Homo sapiens: one gene and its partners. The protein of the gene in region 3 purifies or fractionates together with the protein of the main gene of each other region. This does not show direct contact. Each region holds a gene or a part of one and is shown on either strand. Other genes may lie near its edges.

Evidence for each region.
Region 1: the proteins of PROSER2 (region 3) and STK24 purify together in Homo sapiens (affinity purification with mass spectrometry; 3 studies listed by BioGRID and IntAct, with this or other methods). This does not show direct contact.
Region 2: the proteins of PROSER2 (region 3) and GRPEL1 purify together in Homo sapiens (affinity purification with mass spectrometry; 2 studies listed by BioGRID and IntAct, with this or other methods). This does not show direct contact.

The regions. Positions count from the first base shown.
Region 1 is NC_000013.11:98,567,108-98,574,107, forward strand, and holds part of STK24 (serine/threonine-protein kinase 24 isoform b precursor), read right to left. Parts: intron 1-7,000. UniProt on the Homo sapiens protein: Serine/threonine-protein kinase that acts on both serine and threonine residues and promotes apoptosis in response to stress stimuli and caspase activation.
Region 2 is NC_000004.12:7,065,065-7,072,065, forward strand, and holds the start of GRPEL1 (grpE protein homolog 1, mitochondrial precursor), read right to left. Parts: upstream 3,001-7,001; 5' UTR 2,969-3,000; coding exon 2,907-2,968; intron 1,563-2,906; exon of another isoform or gene 1,116-1,562; intron 124-1,115; exon of another isoform or gene 1-123. UniProt on the Homo sapiens protein: Essential component of the PAM complex, a complex required for the translocation of transit peptide-containing proteins from the inner membrane into the mitochondrial matrix in an ATP-dependent manner.
Region 3 is NC_000010.11:11,861,356-11,868,355, reverse strand, and holds part of PROSER2 (proline and serine-rich protein 2), read right to left. Parts: exon of another isoform or gene 6,949-7,000; intron 5,540-6,948; exon of another isoform or gene 5,314-5,539; intron 1,826-5,313; coding exon 1,573-1,825; intron 1-1,572.

The sequences.
Region 1 (7,000 bases), on a different chromosome or scaffold from region 3:
CCCCAAAGAAGAGCTTTCGCTGTTTAGATACGCACCCTTCAAGTCCTCCATCCATTAACATGCTATGGATTTATGGCCAGCGCTGTGCAGTGCCCCCAGCGCGCAGACACCACTGACTCTGCAACATGCAATCTGCTAACACATGGCCACTGGGACAGCCACATAACACCCAGGCCCTCTGACGGGCTATTCGGCATCTGTGGCACACGTGTGCCCCAGTCCTGCACCGACCACCACGGAACATACGACCAGACTGATGCCACCTCCGCCCTGCCAAGAAGCACATACTCAATTCTGGACCAGGGGGTTGGAACCCCAAAGCATCATAAACTTAAGCAAGCGTTTCTCCAGAGAGATCCTATGAGGCTCCCGGACATCGTTCTGTGTCCACAGGATCTTGGGACCAAAAAAATGAGAGAAGCAAGAAGAGCAGGTTCTCAGTTCAAGTTGGGGAGGTGGAGGCCACCGACCAGTAGAGAGATGGAAAAATAAGCAGACATGTATACTGCTGTTTATTTACAGGGAGAAAATAAGAGGCACAATCTCATGATGAAGAGAACGGAGGCTCCGAGTTCTTGCCCGCCGCCCTGGCCCAGCAGTCAGTCCTAGCTCTTGGAATTTCCTCACCTGCCTGGCCCTGTCTTTATTCACCTATAAACTGAAGAATAGCAACTTGGAGGTAGAGGGGTCACACAGACAGCAGCATCTAATTGGGTCAATCCTGAAATCCCACTAAAATCATAAATCTAAAAACCACCACATACCTGAAACAGAGAGAAGACAACTGCAATGAAATCTCAGAAGCTGGAAAGTAGGTAGTGGTTTAAAAAAAAAAAGGGGGGGGGTGGGGAGTAGAGGAAGACAACGCTAAACCGGAGGTGCAGAAAACAGAGAACTTTTTTTTTTTTTGGAGGCACAGTCTCGCTCTGTCGCCCAGGCTGGAGTGCAATGGCGCGATCTCGGCTCCCTGCAACTTCCGTCTCCTGGGTTCAAGCAATTCTGCCTCAGCCTGCCAAGTAGCTGGGATTACAGGCGTGTATCATCACGCCTGGCTAATTTTTGTGTTTTTGGTAGAGAAGGGGTTTCACCATGTTGGTCAGGCTGGTCTCGAAATCCTGACCTCAAATGATCCACCCGCTTCGGCCTCCCAAAGTGCTGAGATTACAGGCATGAGCCATCGCGCCGGGCCAGCAGAGAACTAACTTAACTCACAGTGCTGGACCCCCGGCTCTCAGGAACTGACGGCACCAGTCCCTCTGCCGGGGGAATGAGTGAACCAGGCAGAGCCTCAAAGTCAGCCACAGAAGTGGGTAGACAGCCAGACAGCTTGCCCCACATCTCACAGCCAGGCTCCCAAAGTCAAGGAAATGATGAAAATATATTATCTGCAAAGGAAGGAAAAATTGAGGATATATGGACCAGGCTGCAGCAGACACAGCCGGAAGCAGAGGCAGCATACTTAAAAATGGGGAATGAAGGCCGGGGATGGTGGCTCACACCTGTAATCCCACCACTTTGGGAGGCCGAGGCATGTGGATCACCTGAGGTCAGGAGTTCGAGACCTGCCTGCTCCACATGGTGAAACCTCATCTCTACTAAAAAATACAAAAATTAGCCAGGCATGGTGGTGGGCGCCTGTAATCCCAGCTACTCGGGAGGCTGAGGCAGGAGAATCACTGGAACCTGGGGGGGCAGATGTTGCAGTGAATGAAGATCACGCCATTGCACTCCAGCCTGGGTGACAGAGCGAGACTCCATCTCGAAAAACAAAAAAGATAAAAGAATATTTGAGGGCCGATGCAGAAGGTTCACCATCCAAGTAATAAAGTTTCAGAAAGAAAGAACACAGAAAATGGAAGGGGGGAGGGGAATCAAAGAAAAAAGTCAATGAAAAGATCTGAGTCGCTTCACAGAAAAGGCCTAACCAAGTATCTGTCACGAGAAACGAAAACAGCCCCACTCCAAGCCACATCATTGTGAAACTTCAGAACTCAAGGAAAAAGTTCAGATCCCATTAGGTCCAGGAAGAACAGCACAGCCTGCACACACAGAAGCCGGTGCTGGCAGGGCCTCCATCTTCAACAGCAACACTGGAAGCTAAAACACAGTGGAGAAACACCTTTAAAATTCTGGAGGAAATGAATGTCCACCCTGCAATTTTACACCATGCTAAAATATCAACTGAGGGAGAAGAAAAAAAATTTTTGAAAAGCCTGTCTCCCACGCTGCCTATTCACAGAAAATGGCGCACTATATGCCCAACCAACATCATGGCATAAACCAAGAAAGAAAATGACAGCAGAGACAAAAAAAAAAAAACAAAAAAAAACAAAACAGATATTCAACACAAGAGAGCAGCAGAAGGAACCCAGAGGATGAGAGCAAAGGAAGACCAGAGGATGGGGGTGGCACAAGAAGCATAGAAGATACGCAGGTGACGAAAGGCACAGGTGCCACCCGAACTTCCTAAGACAAGGTTGCAACAACTACAGAGTGCTGGGATGAATGAGAAGCATTACCAAAAGAAAAGAAATCTGATCAGTAACTATGGTTGAGTAATAATGGCTGGGCTGCAGATCCGTCTGCAGTCCATTAATGTACACACCGCATTCTGACCTCACTGACATTACAACATCTCTCTGCTGGGGGAGAGCGGGGAGCCCATGTGAGGAAAAGAGGCAAGCGGAAGAGAAGTAAATCCTCATCCGCAGGGTCCAAAGTCTATAGACAATGCCTGAAACCAGGAAAAAAAAAAAAACACAGGCAGAAATTTTTTTTTTTTTTTTTGAGATGGAGTTTCACTCTGTCACCTAGGCTGGAGTGCAGTGGCACCATCTCAGCTCACTGCAACCTCCGCCTCCCAGGTTCAAAGAATTCTCCTGCCTCAGCCTCCCAAGTAGCTGGGAATACATGCGCCCACCACCACGCCCAGCTGTTTTTTTTGTATTTTTAGTAGAGACAGAGTTTCACCATGTTGGCCAGGCTGGTCTTGAACTCCTGACTTCAAGTGATCCACCTGCCTCAGCCTCCCAACGTGCTGGGATTACAGGCGTGAGCCACCGCCCCCGGTCAATTTTTTAATGTTCCTCATAAACTAAGGAGTAACAAAAACAAAAATCAACCAGGAGAGATCAAAGGGGCTGCCCTCGGGGAATAAGAAATGGCGGGAGGTGGAAGCAGCTGCTATCTTTCCCAACCAACCTTACAAAACTACCCATTAGACATTTCTAAATAGAAACTAAACAAAATCCTAAGTAATTACAAATAAAACAAAGGATGTGGACCTGTAACAGTTCTTTCAAACCTTACGGCCTAAAATTCTCTTAAAAAACAGGAAGAGACTTAAAATAATAGGAAGATAAACCCCAGCTACGTACTTGGTAAGCATTAATTTAAAACTTGAAATGTTCCCACAATGTATTCAGATACCAACAGAGCGCAGAACAGAAAAGGTTTCTTTTGCTGACGAAGAACCCTCAAGAAACACAATGGAAGGTCTCTAGAGTCAACAATGTTGTTCCCTGGGTGCGCATAAAGTGACTGGTAACCACCAATTTGGGATGTTTCACAGTTTGTACCAAGCAAAGGCATATCTCAGTTTATTTCCCCTAATTTAAACCTTGCAAACCAGGGAGCCATTTAGGATTAAGAAACTCCATAGTCACCCTCAGGAGGCAGGTTATTTTTCCCAAAGCATTTGGCACTTATATTTTTTATAATTTCCACTGCAAAAACATGAATTATGGGAAATGACTGCTACAAACTACTCCGACGACAGTGGCTGATTCTACGCGATGAGACATGGATAATAGAGTGCAACTTCTATTTCCTGCACTCACACCACCCACAAGATTCCATTAATGATAATCAGCTGAGCTAAGGCATTAAAAGGCACAGAAAGGTGGCTTGGGTGTGGTCCACTTCCTGCAGGTAAGGAGCTTCCACAAGGGCAGCTCTGAATCATCGGGAGTAATCGCCCAAATAAAGAGCTAAGGGGCCCGTTTCTCAGGAGACCATCGGACGCCTGGACTGCGGCTTTAGAGTGTGTGTAACCGCACAAGCACAGCAGAAAGTAGCAGTGACCATCGACAGGCTCCTCCCTTCAGTAACTGCTCACCCTGCATCTTGCACCAGGGTCCTGGAAAAATACTGAACTGAAAATGAAACTCAACCTGCACCACATTAGGCAGCTCAGCTCTACGCATCAGACCGTAGCTCCAAGAAGAGCATCAAAGTCAGAAAGAGGGTGGGAAAGCAATGATGCCAGCCGCCACCTGCCCATAACTGCTCAGCACAGTTAGCAAGCTAGAAAATCTCATCTGACCAATTCCTACTTGAAGGTCACTTGCTTTTATGTGACATGCTATCAAGAATACTCCCAGATCTGAGACTGGACTCCTCCAAAAGTTTGGGTTTTTCTAATTTAAAAAAACCTTGTGACCATCCTCCCCCTCAAAAAAGAACACTTTCAAGCAAAACAAATTCTTACCATTGTTACATTTTGGAACACGGAGTATTCAAAATAGGTTTTTTGTTTTTTTGACACTTACATAGGCAACTAACTAACAAAACAGTAACTAACAGTAACTGAGTACTTATTACTCTTTAGCACTGATCAGCAAAAAGGATCATAAAGCAAGAGGAGTAATGAGATACTATAAAATGTTCACTGAGAGTTCAAGCCACGAAGCTGAGTGAATGCTAAAAAAATCCACTTAGGCTGTCCTACTGACACCTGGGCTCCCCACTCGCATCCCTGGGCTTCCTCTTCCCTGAAGTGCTGCAATGCCTTCTAAAGGGGCACCCAGCACTCCCCACACCTGAGAAAGCAGGAGCCCCAAAGAACAGGAGATCATCTGCTCAAAAATGTGCCATACTTCCGGCTGTCTACAGATGCAAGGCCTCCCCCAGGCCCACAGGCACCCCACTGCCTCTTCAGCTCCAGGACCGATCTAGATCTAGCCCACCAGAAGCTGTGTCACCGCTTTCCAACCATGTGCCTTTGCTCACTGTGTCCTCAGTCACTGCAACCTTCTTAGAGCACATGCCCCAAAGCAGGCAGCCGACCTCTTGAGGACAGGATGGACTGAGGCTCTGAACTCTGCCTCCAACGACTCCGGGCACTATACTCTGCAGGCTCCCCTGTGCAGTCCAATGCTGTCAGTCACCAGAGCACACTCCACAGTTCAGCAAGTCCCCAAGGTGCTCTCCGAACCCACGTCTCGGATGTCCTGACTGTCCACACCCAGTGACACACCAACCTTCCCCCAGGGTGCAGATGGTAACAGGGTAACTGGGCAGGCACCTCCCAAGGAAGGAACGGAAAAGAACCCGTGGAAATGTGACACTAACAAGAAAAAAAAGTACAAGAGCACTTAAGCCACAATTAAATGCAGCTGTCCTGTGTTTGCCTTCATTTCCCAGACTCCCAGAGTGCACAGGCTTCCCTAGGGTGGAGCAGAGCACTTGAGAAAAGCTCCCCATGTTCCCAGACTGGCCATTAGACACCAGTCTCACTATCCTGATGCAAGGGGCATTCTCAGCAAAGGTCTATTTATCCAAGCAGCAAGAAAAACAGAAGGGGAACGAGGGGGACAGGATGATGTTAACAAGACAAACTTCAGGTTTTTAAGCTATTCCTCTAAATTATCTGTATTTTCAAATATGAAACTATGTTAAACTTACAACTTCAAAACATGGTAAATTAACCAGGCCCTGCAATATGCAATACATGTGACGTATATAATTCAGTATTTTTCAAACTGTGGGTCAGGAATCAGTGGGCTGTGAAATCAATCTAGTGTTGCAACCAGCTCCTTTTTTAAATATACCACAACAGCACATCACAAGCACAGGCTGAGCATCCCTGATCCAAAATGCTCCAAAATATGAAACTTTTCAGCGCCAACATGACACTCAAAGGAAATGCTCATTGGGAGCACTTCTGATTTCGGATGTTCAACAAGCATATAATGCAAATATTCCAAAATTCGAAACACTTGTGGTCCCAAGCATTTTGGATGAGGGATACTCAACCCGTAGTAAGGATTAGTACGGTCTCCTGAAACTTGTTTTTGATCCTGATGTAAAATATATTTCTTACATGGGTCACGGTTCAGAAAAGTTGAAAAGTGACTGATAAAATTTTGTAACAGAAATGTGCAAACCAAAATCTCATTTTTAAATCACATTTCTGCAAACTCAAAGCCGATTGGTGTTCCTGCCTCCATCTGAAGCTTTTCTTTTAATCTCAATTGAGTGAAACAACAAATGCTCAATGAAAGACGGAGTACTTATAGCCACAGATCAGCCTGATTTCTTTATGTTTATTCGTCACTATATTCATTCAGTTTCTGATGTCTATTTTTTTCCCCTACTGAAATATAAAACTGGGGTTTAAGAGAAAAAAAGCAAAGGCTTCAGCAACTTTCATTAAACATTTACTTTAAATGGTAACCTCATTCAGATCTACCACTTTCAACCCCTCCCCTAGGACCTGGCACATGAAAGTTCAATAAGGGTTGCTGATTGAATAAATTAAAAAATCAGCCTCCTATTTCTAATTTCTTTAGCCAATCTAACTAGCAATGAGATAAACTTTAATGTTTGCAAAAGTAACCATAAAACAGTAACACTGCATGATGAGTGGGAGTAGGAGGAGTAGTAGTTTCCAATCACAAATTTGCCACATAATATATGATCTCACCTTGGTCAGTTAAGTCTTCCTTGGTCTCCACATCTACAAAATGGTATAATATCATCTACATCTCAAACGGTACCGGTAAGAATCAAGAGGCATAAAAATGATTTGCAAAACATTGAAAAATGGTGTTTATACTAACATGGTTGTTATTTTTCAAGCATCCTTGCCTAGGCCACCTGAATTCACTCTGCTTTATTTTTTTATTTTATTTTTTTTTTTGAGACGGAGTCTGCCTCTGTCGCCCAGGCTGGGGTGCAACGGCACAATCTCAGCTCAACGCAACCTCCGCCTCCCGGG
Region 2 (7,001 bases), on a different chromosome or scaffold from region 3:
TGACTGAGACAGTCTGCCCAGACCTAACCACGTACTTATGGAATAGCTACTACTAGAGTGAGGCTGGCCTACTGCTGATCCTGATGACAAAGATAGACCCAGCAGAGATCTTGCAAAAAAAAGGTATCTAAACACAAAGAACAGTAATTTGTGATTTAAAAGTGATTAAGACAGGTTCGCTGGCTCACGCCAGTAATCCCAGCACTTAGGGAGGCCAAAGCAGGTGGATCACTTGAGATCAGGAGTTCGGGACCAGCCTGACCAACATGGAGAAACCCCGTCTCTTCTAAAAATACAAAATTAGCCTGGCGTGGTGGTGCATGCCTGTAATCCCAGCTACTTGGGAGGCTGAGGCAGGAAAATCGCTTGAATCAGGGAGGCGCAGGTTGAGGTGAGCTGAGATCGCGCCACTGCACTCCAGCCTGGGCGACAAGAGGGAAACTCTGTCTCAAAAAAAAAAAAAAGTGATTAAAAAAAAAAAGGGAACTAAGTGCTTTGTGCTTTGGGAGGCTCAGAGTAGAAGGAGATACCTAGCTTGGGGAATGGAAAACCATGAAAGGCTTTGTAGGATAGGTAAGAGTTACGAAAAAGGGATCAGAGGTGGGACAATGGGATAGATGCAGCTTCAGGAAGATGAAACTGCTTGGACAAAGGCATGAAGACAGGAAAGCATGGGATATGTACCGGTGAAATAGACCAAGACCAAGTGATAAGCCCAGGTCACAAAGCCATCAACGAATGATAAAATAAAGTCTTAAAACCTAGATTTCTTCACCAGGACCAGAGGACCTCTTTTTTTTTTTTTTTGAGACGGAGTCTTGCTCTGTCACCCAGGCTGGAGTGCAGTGGTGCCATCTCGGCTCACTGCAAGCTCCGCCGCCCGGGTTCACGCCATTCTCCTGCCTCAGCCTGCCGAGTAGCTGGGACTATAGGCGTCCACCAACACGCTCGGCTAATTTTTTTGTATTTTTTTAGTAGAGACGGGGTTTCACTGTGTTAGCCAGGATGGTCTAGGATCTCCTGACCTCGTGATCCGCCCGCACCCGGCCAGGACCTCTTTTTAAATTAGGCCACAGTCCTATCTGAGAATAAGCTACATTCAATTTTCTTCCCAGATTAAAACTGCTTCAACGAATAGGAAGGTGAAGGCTGCCAGCACACAGAACTCAGTCAAGGCTGTTTATTGCAGCACTGCGAGCGACAAGTTGGAAACAATGTTTGTCAGCGAGCAAATGGTTGAATAAACTTGCTAACACAATCTGGAATATTATGCAGCTCCTAAAAATGAGTTAAACTGCCATTTATTGGATACACTTTGGATGTTCTGTTAAGAAATGCAACTTACAGAGAAATACACAAAACAGGATCCTATTTTTGTAAAGACAAACTAGAAATCCTGTGTACTTATTAATATCTTAGATCTGTGGAAAGAAGTGGAGTGGAAGCCTCCATTACAGTCTTGCCATGGGGGTGGAGAGCGATGACCATTTTATATTTTTACTCTTGTGAATTTAAAAAGCTAAGAATTTAAATAAAAACTGAGTGTACTGTTGTGAAGCCCACCTTCCTCTCCAGTTGTTCTGCCTGGGGGTGTGACAGCCACCAGCCTTTCTGCAGGTCAGCTCTTCACAGACCCCTTTCCGAAGCACAGCCAACACAAAGTGTGGCCAGGAATGTGCAACAGGACCCACACCCGGGGCCATCTCGTTCTGCAGAGGGAAACTGAGTCTCAGAAAGCCTAGTTACTCTGAGAGCTATGACTACCAGTCAGTTCTCCTGCCTTTCCCTAGTTGAGCATCTTTCCACAAAACTACCATTCTAGAGACAGAAATGATGCTGACTTGGTGGTCACTTTCCTGGCAATTAATTCCAATACAAAACCACCAATTACTTGACCAAAGTCTTTTTACTCAAGTATTCCACGTGGGTCGTTGCTCTTGGCTCCTGTGTTGTTAAGATATAATTTATTAAGCTAGCACTTACCCCTTAATCACCTAGACTGAAAGTGATCTTCACCTCACCTGCCTGCTCTCCTTCAGGAAAGAACTACATCTCACTGCCCAGCTTTTGGCCAATTTGGCCCTCAGTGGCTTCTCTAATCAATAACTTGGTTCTAGGCACTTCCTCCAGCAAGTACTTGCCATACTAACTTCTAAAGTAGAACTTTCAAAAAGCAGAAGGGGCAGATTTGAGGGGAAAAAAAAAAAGGGGCACTGTCTCGTGGCCCTCAGGCCCGAAATGTGCCCTTGTCTAAACAAACTCTTCGCCCAGCAGCAGCACAGGTTCGACTGCTCTTTTGACCTCAGACGCTGGAGAAGGCGGAGTGAAGGAATTCGAGGTCGAGTGGAAAAAGCCCGTGAACGGGCAACACGCACCTTGCGACACGAAGTTTCCCGAGCACCGCTGTGGCCCCGGCCTCGAGCTGCGGCACGGAAATGAGTAACCACAGCTCCTGCCCAGGGCACACCCGGCCCGGCTCGGCCTCGCTGCGTGACCTTGGACAAAGCTCGAGCTTCTTTGGTCGCTTCTTCAACCGCACAAGTTGCGGCTGCCTCTGCGCCCGTGAGCGCCGAGACCGTGAATGCGCGCGAGGCGTCGCCGCAGGCCCTGGACCACACGCGCACGTGGGCCACCGTACCTTCCGAGCCAAACGCCCCCCGCGCTGCGGTCCTCTCCTCCTGACACGGCGCCCGCCCGCTCCACGCTTCCCAAGCCCTGAGCTGGCAGCCTGGCAGCAGAGCAGGCCCCAGCGGGGCGGTCCGCGTCCCGCGGCGGGGAACCGCGAGCCCGGAGATGCCCAGCTCCGGGGCCGAGGCCGGGAAGGAGGCCCCGGGGCCGGGAAAGGCCCCCATCGGAGCGGGAGGTCGCGCTGCCACCTCCACCCAGGGAGACCAAGTGCCCCTTACCTGAGAGACAACGCCAAAGCAGGAAGACTGCGCCGCGCCAACCTCACGCACTGAGCCGCCATGACTGCCACTGCCCGTCGCAGTCGCCGCGCACGCACCAAGCGTGCGTGCAGGCAGCTATACCCACTTTTCTGCCCTACTACTTCGCCTCAGCCAATCCGTAATCGCTTTTCCTGTTATGGACAGGCAATAGTCACCAATAATTGTGGGTCACGGAAGAGCATCTTTCCCCACCCCCCGGTGGGCGGGGCCTGAGGCGTACCGGAGGCCCTGAAGAGGTGAAAGGTGAAGTGAGCATTGGGAGGAGCCTCCTGTGGGCGTGGCGATGCCGGGAGGAGCCAATGAGGAGGCAGCGTGAGGGGGCGGGGCCAGCGCCGGGGTGGGGCGCGCGCGTCGCGGGCCGGGAGGGACTTCAGAGCCTGGTTTTGGGTAGGAGTGAGGCGGCAGCTTGTCGTTTCCCGGCCCGCACCCGCCCTTGCGCTGACACCGCGGGCCTTCCTTTGCTCTGGGAACGAGCGTGGGGAGCCCTGTTCACCCTCACACCCCGGCTCCAGAGCGGCGCGGAGCACTCCATGTTTGCTAAATGAAAATGAAGTCTCGGCGCGAGCGCCACCCAAACGGCGGCGTAGTTGCTTGAGAACCGCGGAGGCAACCGCTTGGGAGGGCGCCCCGACCCCGAAGCTGCTTCTCCAGGCGCCCGAGGCGGAGAGAAGGCACTGGGGTCTCCGTCTCCACCAGTGATTTCTGGTGAAACAGGAAACAAAACCCGGGAAACAAATGGGACGAAATGTTGGCGGTTTTGATGCTGGATGATGGGAATATGGGCGTGTGTTTTGTACCTTTCTGTTATCTTCAGTTTTCTCAAAACACGAAAAACAGACTAAGAACAGCGCATAGAAAACATTGGGGCACAACTAAAGCTCATAAATGCACACGTTTTCATAACCTGACCGAGGTCCATGCTGCTGTAGCGCATACCCCCAAGAACAGAGGGCCGCGTGTTCTTATGGCCCCGGTGCCGGCCCCCAAGCGGGGTTCCCGCAGGAGATAGGGCCTGGCTCCCGCTTCAGCACCGCGTGGCCTGGAGTGCAGTTCTGGCGGCCAAGATCTGAGGGCTGTAGCCCGTGCCCTCACCAGGATCCCAGACTTAGAGTCCCTGCCCTCCCCGGGATCCCAGGGCTCGATCCTGTGCCCTCCCCGGGATCCCAGGGCTGGAGCCCATGCCCTCCCCAGGATCCCAGGGCGCGAGCTGGTGGCTTCTCAAGCGGAGTTTTGCCTGCTTGTTACATTAGTGAATGTAGGACCACTTGAGTAAAGGACCAAACCTTTATTCTTTTGCTTTTCTGCCATTGAAACCATTCAACCCATGCTGATTAATACCTACTGTTTGCCAGGTAATATGCCCCTTGCAGAAAGACGCAAACAGCTAAACCCCAAATGGGATGTTGTACAGGACAAATGACCGTGTCAATTAATACCAATAATTAAGATAATAGTATAATTATGATGATAATATAATTAATTCGAGCCTGGAGGAAACAAAAGAAAGTGGAACTGAACTATTAGAGAATAAATGAGCTTAAAAGACGTCATTGAATGGAATGTGTGGAACTTACTTGGATCATGATAGAATAAACTAGCTTAAACGGGGCATTTGAGAGATAGGTGGGGGAAATTGGAATATAAAGCTGGGTATTAGATGAAAACTGGGAGTATCGATACTTTTGGTAGGGAGCAGTAACGGCTGGTGGGTAAAATGTCCTAACCTTTAGAGATGCAAACGGAAGTATTTACAGCAAATTGCCCCTATGTCTGGTATTCGCTTTGTAAATTCTCCATGAAAAAAAATTCAAGGACAGGTGAAACACAAGTGGCAAATGTTAGTAACGGTTGAAGCTGGGTGATGAATGCCATAGGAGTTATGACGATTTTCTTTTGCATATGTTTGTAGTTTTCTGCGATAAAATTTATTTTATTTTATATATATATTTTGAGACAGAGTCTCATTCTGTTGCCCAGGCTGGAGTGCAGTGGCGCGATCTCAGCTCACTGCAAACTCTGCCTCCCGGTTCAAGCGATTCTCATGCCTCAGCCTCCCTAGTAGCTGGTATTAGAGGTGTGTGCCACCATGCTTGGCTAATTTTTCGTCTTTTTAGTAGAGACGGGGTTTCACCATGTTACCCAGGCTGGTCTCGAACTGCTGAGTTCAAGCAGTCCGGCCTCCTCAGCCTCCCAAAGTGCTAGGATTAGAGGCGTGAGCCACCACACCCAGCCTTTCTGCAATAAAATTTAAAAGTGTCTCGGCCGGGCACAGTGGCTCATGCCTGTAATCCCAGCACTTTGGGAGGCCGAGGCGGGTCGATCATCTGAGGTCAGGAATTCGAGACCAGCCTGGCCAACATGGTGAAAACCCGTCTGTACTAAAAAAATACAAAAAAAGAAAAAAATTACCTGGGCATGGTGGCGGGCACCTGTAATCCCAGCTACTCGGGAGGCTGAGGCAGGAGAATCGCTTGAACCCGGGAGGCAGAGGTTGCAGTGAGCCGAGATGGTACCACTGCACTCCAGCCTGGGCAATAGGGCAAGACTCCGTCTCAAAAAACAAACAAAAACAAAACAAAACAAAACAAAACAGTATCTCATGTTTCTTATTGGCTGTGACCAAGTAACTTCATTGCTTTCAACCTTGGATCTGCTCACCTGTAGAACTGAGACATTATTTGTTGTGAGATTTAAAAAAGAAACATGTTCATTTCCTTCCTTTGGGGCTCGGAAGGAATCAGATGGGCGTCTTGCAGCTCCGATCCTGATGAAGAATTGTAGCTGCTGTGCCTCAAGACAGATAAGCACAGGTCGTCCCAGAGGGGATGCCACCTTGGGGACTGTGAACCTCCGCTGAGGCCAGGCCATGCCCTGCCCTGTGTCTGTATCTGGAACTGCGGGATTTCTCTGATCTGCCAGGGAAAGGCCTGCCACCTCGTGGCCACTTCAGGAACTGCTCCAAAGGCAGTCTGCTCTTGGGAACCTACCTGGTCAGGTAGCTCCTTGAGGTCTGGAACTGCACCACAGTGCAAGTTATCTTCACGTGGAGGTGAAGCTGCCTGTATGGAAGACTCTTGGATCAGTCGTCTGAGCACATGTCCAGCAATGGGCATGGGTGGGCTAGCCAGGGACTGGGGGTGCCGGAAGAGCCGACTGTACAGCACGTGGTGCCCCTAACAAGGATTGAGTGGTGTTTTTAAAAAGAAAAAAAGGTCGTGCAGATGGTCTGACAGTCTGTCGACCGTGGGCGCGGTGCTCATAGCAGCTGAGCACTGCCGGGGTACCAGGCTGTGTGCTGGGTGCTTCAAAGATGTCCTCTTGTGGATCAGCCCATCTGTGGCGAGGAGGGGACCGGGCTCAGCCAGGTTAGGTGACTTGCACAAGGTCATGTGGGTGAAAGGAAGGCAGAACTCTTGTGTATTTCTCCTGACCCCAGATTCTGCGTCAAGGCTGAAGCCAGAACCCACACGTGTCCAGCGCAGGGTGATTGCTGCCATGAGCTGCATTGCTGTGATCCTCTGGCGAGGGCGTGGATTTTCATCCTTTTATTCAATTTTGAAAGAAGCAAATTTAGAAAGATACGATATGATGGGTGTGGCAGACAGAATTCTAAAGGTGGGCCCACTGATTCGTACCCCTGGCTGTTCAGTTAAACACTAGCCTAGGTGCTGCTGTGCAGGGACTTTGACGAAGGAATGAAAGTCCCAAGCCATCTGACCTTGAGATCAGAGATTATCTGGTGGGCTTGACCTCATGAGCCTAATGAAAGCAGGGAGCTTTTCCAGCTGTCAGCAGAAAAGAAGGTCAAATTCAATGTGTGAGAAAGGCTGGAATTAACATTGCTGGTTTGAAGGAGGAAGGGGTTGTGTGAGAAGGTGTGTGAGTGACTTATAGGAGCAGAGAGTGGCCCCCAGCCATGGAATGAGGACCCCAGGTCTGCAGGCACCAGGAGCTGGACTTTCAGGGCCACCTGAATGCACCCAGAAGCGGATTCTCCTCCAGAGCCTCCAGGTAAGAGTTCATTCCAGCCACCACCTTGATTTAGACCTTGTA
Region 3 (7,000 bases):
TGCAGTGAGCCAGGACTGTGCCATTGCACTCCAGCCTGGGTGGGAGAGAGAGTTCCTGTCTCAGAAAAATGAAAGAAAAATTGTTATGAAAATATGTTAGAGAACAGATGGACAGGTGTAGCTGATTTTTCAAAGAGTGTTTTCCTTGGCATGACTACGTGATCTCACATTTTAAAAGGATCGGCTGGTTCAAATTACTTTTGGAACTCTATTTCAAAGCAGAAGTACAGTAAAAAAGAACAGTACATTACTTCTCCTCTTTGAAGAGATGGCTGCAAACCAAGCTCCATATTTACATGGAATCCATAACCGTAGTATGTGAAGTTCTGAGTAATACATAGCCTTGCTTGAAAGACATACATGTGTACACACGTGTACACACTTTATTTCTAGTGGCTCAAGACAAATGACAGTATTTTATCCTTACCAGGGCAAAAGTAATGTTTCCTCATCCCTTCCAATGTTAAACCCTTGGCCACATTTGTTTTCAGTATCCTTTCCAATCGGGGAAAAAAACTGGAAGATATTTCTCTCTGCCCATTTCCCTCCAGCTCAGGGATCCCCAACAACCCTGGTACTGGTCTGGCCTGTTAGGAACTGGGGCGCACAGCAGGACGTGAGTGGTGAGCGAGTGAAGCTTCATTTGTATCTACAGCCTCTACCCATGGCTCGCATTACCGAGCTCCACCTCCTGCCACGTCAGCAGTGGTATGAGATTCTCTTTCTTTTTTTGAGACAGGGTCTCGCTCTGCCACCCAGGCTGGAGTGCAGTAGCACGATCTCAGCTCACTGCAACCTCTGCCTCCTAGGTTCAAGTGATTCTTGTGCCTCAGCCTCTGGACCAGCTGGGACTACAGGTGTGCGCCAGCTAATTTTTGTATTTTTAGTAGAGATGAGATTTCACCGTGTTGGCCAGGCTGGTCTTGAACTCCTGGCCTCAAGTGATCCATGGCGCCCAGCCTGTAAAATAGAATAATTACCTGGAAGCCATTTCCAATTTTCTTTCTGTGCATGTATGCATTGTGTATTTAAAAAAATGTAAACTCTGCTTATGTGCCCAGTTCATTCTTTTTTTTTTTTTTTTTTTTTTTGAGACGGAGTCTCACTCTGTCCCCCAGGCTGGAGTGCACTGGCACAATCTCGGCTCACTGCAAGCTCTGCCTCCCGGGTTCACGCCATTCTCCTGCCTCAGCCTCCTGAGTAGCTGGGACTACAGGCACCCGTCACCATGCCTGGCTAATTTTTTGTATTTTTTAGTAGAGACGGGGTTTCACTGTGTTAGTCAGGATGGTCTCAATCTCCTGACCTCATGATCCACCTGCCTCAGCCTCCCAAAGTGCTGGGATTACAGGCTTGAGCCACCGCGCCTGGCCCATTCCATTCTTTATTCTAGGCCCTCTGGCATTTCCCTTTGCTGGATGATGAAACTGCCAAGGAGTATTTTCCCCTATAAAAATCTGGTAAGACTCAACAACTTCTACTGGCAAACACAGGGGAACACAAAAGAAGTATCTCTGGGTCTCACAGACACCAGGAAACCACATCCCAGGGATGGCCTGTCTTCCCCCTCACCTGCTGCCTGGGTCCCCTCTGGAAGGCCCTCGGCTTCCCCGGCGCCAGGTGCTGGCTGCACTAAGTCGATGACATCTTCAGGCTCGGAGGGACTGGAGGTGCTCTCCTCCAGAGACGGGGAGCAGAGGCAGCACACTCCTCCATCGCACAGCACTGGCTCCTCAAAGTCCTCGTCTAGGGAGTCAATCGTCTCTTCAAAAAACAGGAGCACATCCTTTTCCTCATGGGTGAGGTACTTCAGGCTCTCATCATCCTAGAGTACAGGGATTGGGAACAGAAGAGAGAAAACAAACACTGGCTTCACTAAAGAGACAAAAGCTGAAGCAAAGTTGGGATTGGTCCACAGCCCAGGGCGGAACTCACTGTGTCCCGAGAGTACCCTGCCACACAGTGCCTGCGTGTGCCTCTCCATCACCCAGATGGAAGAGAACGTGTTCCGAAAGGCAGAGCAAACAACAGAGCCTCAAAGCTGTTATAACGGGCCCTCGCCTTGGGGTTCCTAGCAAGTCAATGACAAAAAGCACCCTCTCGGGAGCACACTGGAGAGCTGCAGTCAGCCTACGGCTATCCAACACACTTGTTTTTCCATAATCACGGGAAACCTCTGCTTAAAGATGGTGGATTGAACTCACATATTTATCTCCTTTCTCACCAGAAACCGTACTAAAACGAAGGGATTTTTTTTTTAAGGCACAAATCACAATGACAAAATAACAGGAAGAGAGATGGTGGAGCACGCATCATCTTTGGGGAACCTGAAGAATCCAACAGCCAAAAGCAGGGCAGCCGGAGAGCAGGACAGGTGGAAACTGACTGAGAAGGCCCAGGAAAGCCAGTGACCCACCTGCTGCATCCCGAAGAACTGCCCAGAAGCTCAGGCCCTGGAGGTGCTGAGCGGCTCTGGAAGTGTGGGCAAGGTGACGGTGAAGAGAGCTGAACTGTTTGAAAGTCTCTTTCAGAAGCAATGAGCTCATCCCGGCACAAAACTCGCCAGTTACTCTCGAAAAAGGTGACAGAGGAACCCTGAAGTGGGGCCACGGAGCAAAGCTGACGGTGGAGTGCCGTGTTAACAGTGTGGGCTGTCAGTGCAGCCAAGTGACCGCCCTCCAGATGGAGGACTGTGCATGTCATCTCTGGGGAACCCGAGGAATCCAAGAGCCAAAAAAGGCTGATCCCAAGGGTTCCCCAGCAAGATCAATCCACAGGTAAAGATTACAGTCAACGAATCCCAGTGTAGAACTGCGCAGCAGTTTCTTACTGTCCTACTCTGGAGTATGCGCAGATATCTAATAACCACCGAGCATCTGAGGAAAACTGTTAATGTGAAACAGCTATCAAAATCAAAGGATAGAAAAGCAACTTACAGGAAATGAACTATGTGGAGTGATGGAAAACTTCAAAAAGGCTATCATCAGTTGTCAGATAAGAGGGGATACTGAATCCATAAACAGCATGATTTTTTTTCTTTACAGGACAAAAGAAGACTTAGAAATAAATAAAAAATACTAACAGCACAAAAAAATGAAAAACTAAATAAAAGCCTAAAAGATAAAGTTGTAAAATCAGAAAACTATGAAAAAAAAGGATAAGAAAATCAAAGGATGGATCTGGGAGGGCCACTATGTGAATAATGAGAGTTCCAGAGAGAGAAATCAGAGAAAATGAGAGGAAGAAATTATAAAATAAAATAATTCAGGGAAATGCCCCTAAACAGGAACAGGTGAGTTTCCAAACTGAAAGGGGTCCTTAGTGTACAACCTAATGAATAAAAATCAAACAGACCCATGCCAAGGTATGCATCATTGTGACATTTCAGAATACTGAAAGCCAAGAAAAGATCTGGAAAGCTTCCCAGAGTGAAAAAGCAGGTCACATACAAAAGATCAGAAATCAGAAGCCAGGTGCGGTGGCTCACGCCTGTAATCCCAGTACTGTGGGAGGCCGAGGTGGGTGGATCACTCGAGCTCCAGAGTTCGAGCCCAGGCTGGCCAACATGGTAAAATCCTGTCTCTACTAAAGATACAAAAATTAGCCGGGCATGGTGGTGTGCACCTGTAATCCCTGCTACTTAGGAGGCCGAGGCAGGAGAATCACTTGAACCTGGGAGGCAGAGGTTGCAGTGAGCCAAGACTGCACCACTGCACTCCAGCCTGGGTGACAGAGCAAGACTCTGTCTCAAAAAAAAAAAAAAGAAAAAAAAAATTCAGAAATCAGAATTTGATAACTGCCTAAGTTACGTAAGAGAATAGTATCCTTGTTTTTAAAATGTACTTCAGTATTGAGGGGAGCATTATGTAGCAACTACATTCAAATGGTTCAGAAAAAATAAAGTGTGCGTGTGTTGTGTATATAGAGAGAGCGCATGTTAAAATGTGGAAAAAATTTAAAAATTGGTGAATCTAATTAAAGCGTAGGTGGGAGTTCTCTGTACTATTCTTATAACTTCATTAAGTTTGAAATAACTTCCAAACAATTTAAACAAACAAAAGATCAGGAATCAGAAAACAGCAACAGACTTCTCAGCAGCAACACCAGAAGCCGGGAGACAATGGGGGCTCAAAACCCGGATAAATTGTGAACTAGGATCCTATACATAATCCGATTATTAATTAGAACTACGGAAGAATAAAGGTGTTTTTAAGTCATGCAAGGTCTTCAATCTGATCTCCCATGTCAGCCTGTCTGAGGAAGCCTCTGCAGGGTAGTCAGGAAGGGCAGCTGTTCCTCTAAACACGGAGTAAACCCAGACAGAAGACACGGAGCCAGGTAACAGAAGCGTCCACATGAGAAAGCTGCAGGGAATCCCAGAATAACGAGGGCTCCCCAGGAAGCCACCTGTGCGCTCAGCAAGTAGTCTAGTTCACAACAAGCCCAAGGGTGGCAAAGGAAACCATGCAAGCAAAACCGAAACCATGAGCAACCACAGAAAAACTAATGTGAGAGAAAGCATTTATCTATCATCTGTGCACAGCAACATACACACCGACACCATAACAGAGTTGTCTCAGATTGAAATTGTGCATACTTAATACAGACACATGAAAAAAACAAAGGATATATAGCAATATGTCAATAGTGGAGGTAAATAACAAATAGGTAGAGTTAAGAGCTGTTGCCTCCCATTGAGTAGGAAATGGAGGTGGTACATGCGGACTGATGCTTTTATAAACCTTATAGACTATTTGACTCTATAATGCTATGAGTGTGGACTCTGCTTCTGCTGTACTTTTTTTTTTTTTTGTGGGGGGGATGGTTTCACTCCCGTTGCCAGGCTGTTGAGTGCAGTGGCGCGATCCTGACTCGCTGTAACCTCTGCCCCCAGGGCTCAAGTGGTTCTCCTGCCTCAGCCTCCAGAGATGCTGGGACTACAGGTGCACGTCTGTGCCCTGCTAATGTATTTTTTTTGTCTTATCAGAAGTGATTGAGAGCTGATCCATGTGGTGTAGTCTGATGCTTTCCACACTGTGATCTGAGAGGTATTCAAATGCCCACCTACCCAAAGCATCTAACTCCCAGGCCCATACAGAGCCTGTGGTCTACACAATTTCAGAGACTATAGTTGAAAGCATAGTACACTGTTGTTTTGGGGATGAAAACACAAGAACACATGCAAATTTCTCAAGCTAGCCTGGTCTTATTAGCTTAATCCTGAAAGAAGGATGTCTCAGGAAAAGGAGAGATACCTAGGCACGGGTTAGGTAGGCAGGCAGAACATTGCTAGGGAAGATAAGCAATGCGTACCTGTTGGATATAAACCTATGCACAATCGCCGGGTCTGAAGATGTGTGTCTGCTTGGGTGGGTGGACACAGCTTTCCGAAGTGGTTGTACTGACTGACACTTGCTTTCGGCAGGGCTGGTTGCTCTAGCGCCCTGAAGGAGAGGAATGCAGTCATATTTCACTGTGATTTTCAGTGTCATTTCCACGAAGACTAATGATGTTGAGCTTTTTTTTCTCCATAATACAGGTGAGTACTCCTCATCGGAAATGTTTGGGATAAGAAGTGTTCTGGATTTTTTCACATTTTGAAATATTTGCATATACATAATGAAATATTGATGTTTTGTATATGCCTTTTGTTGATTTTTTGGAGACCGTGTCTCACTCTGTTGCCCAGTCTACAGTGCAGTGGTACAATCACAGCTCATTGCAGCCTAGGTCTCCCCAGCTCAAGTGATCCTCCCACCTCAGCCTCCCCAGTGGCTGGAACTACAGGCAAACACTACCATACCCAGCTAATTTTTATATATTTTTTGTAGAGACAAAGTCTTGCTACATGGCCCAGGCTGATCTTGAACTCCTGGGCTCAGGCAGTCCTCTGGCCTCAGCTTCCCAAAGTGGTGTTATTGTAGGCATGAGCCACTGTGCCCATTCTATAGTAAGTCTTGATATCTGGCAGAGTCCTCCAGTTTTGTTGGAGTTCTTAAAGTCTTCCTTAAGTCTGTTTAGCTTTCTTAGTCCTTTTTTATTTCCACATAAATTTTAGTATCAGTTTGTCAATTTGCATATTCACATAAACACACGCATGCCCCTGTGGTGACTTTAAGCGGGATTTGCATGAAAGTTTCTCAAATTGCAGAGAACTGATGTCTCTGCGATCTTTTCTTGACCCATGAATATGGCTCATGGCTTCATTTATTTAGATGTGTGGTTCTCAAAGTGTGGTGTCTGGACCAGAAGCAGCATCTGTGAACTTGTCAGAAACATTCCTGGGTCCGATCCCAGACCTGCCGCATTAGAAACTCTCAGGCGCTGGGCCTGTCAGTCTGTGTTGGACGCAGCCTCCAGGGAGTCTGATGCGCTGACAGTTTAGATGCACAGATCTGGCTCTTTAATTTCTCTCAATGTTTCTCATAGTTTCCAGTGTAGACATCTTGCACGTTTTCTGCCCTATGTCTTCCTAGGTATTTGCTATGGCTCCGCCTACCCTTCACAGTTAACTTTCCACCATTCTCTCCTTTATATTCCTCGGGAGGCATGGCCAACTCTTTGGTAAAGGGCCAGGTAGTGAATATTCTGGGCTGTGCAGGCTTTAGGGTAGCAGCTTCTCAACTCTACCAAGGTAAGGAATGAGCCTCACTTTTGTTACACTGAACTGTATTTACAAAAGCACGGAGTGGGGGCAGCTACGGGCCACAGGCTATGGTTTGTCGCTTCTTGCTCCCTGCTCAAGTCCATCACTGGCTCTTCCTATGTCGGCTTCTAAGGCAGCGACGCCCATCCGTGCACGGCTGCATCTCACCTACTTTCACGGCCGGATTTCAAACCTCAGCCCACCCCCACAGCATCCCCTGAATCACAGCCACACACACGCACCTGCTAAGCACACAATCCAGTACCACAGTATAAATCATGCTCCTGCTGTCTAGAGCTTACCACCCAATGAGGGCTTCAGATAAGATCAGCAACTGCCCTAGAGTGTGGAACT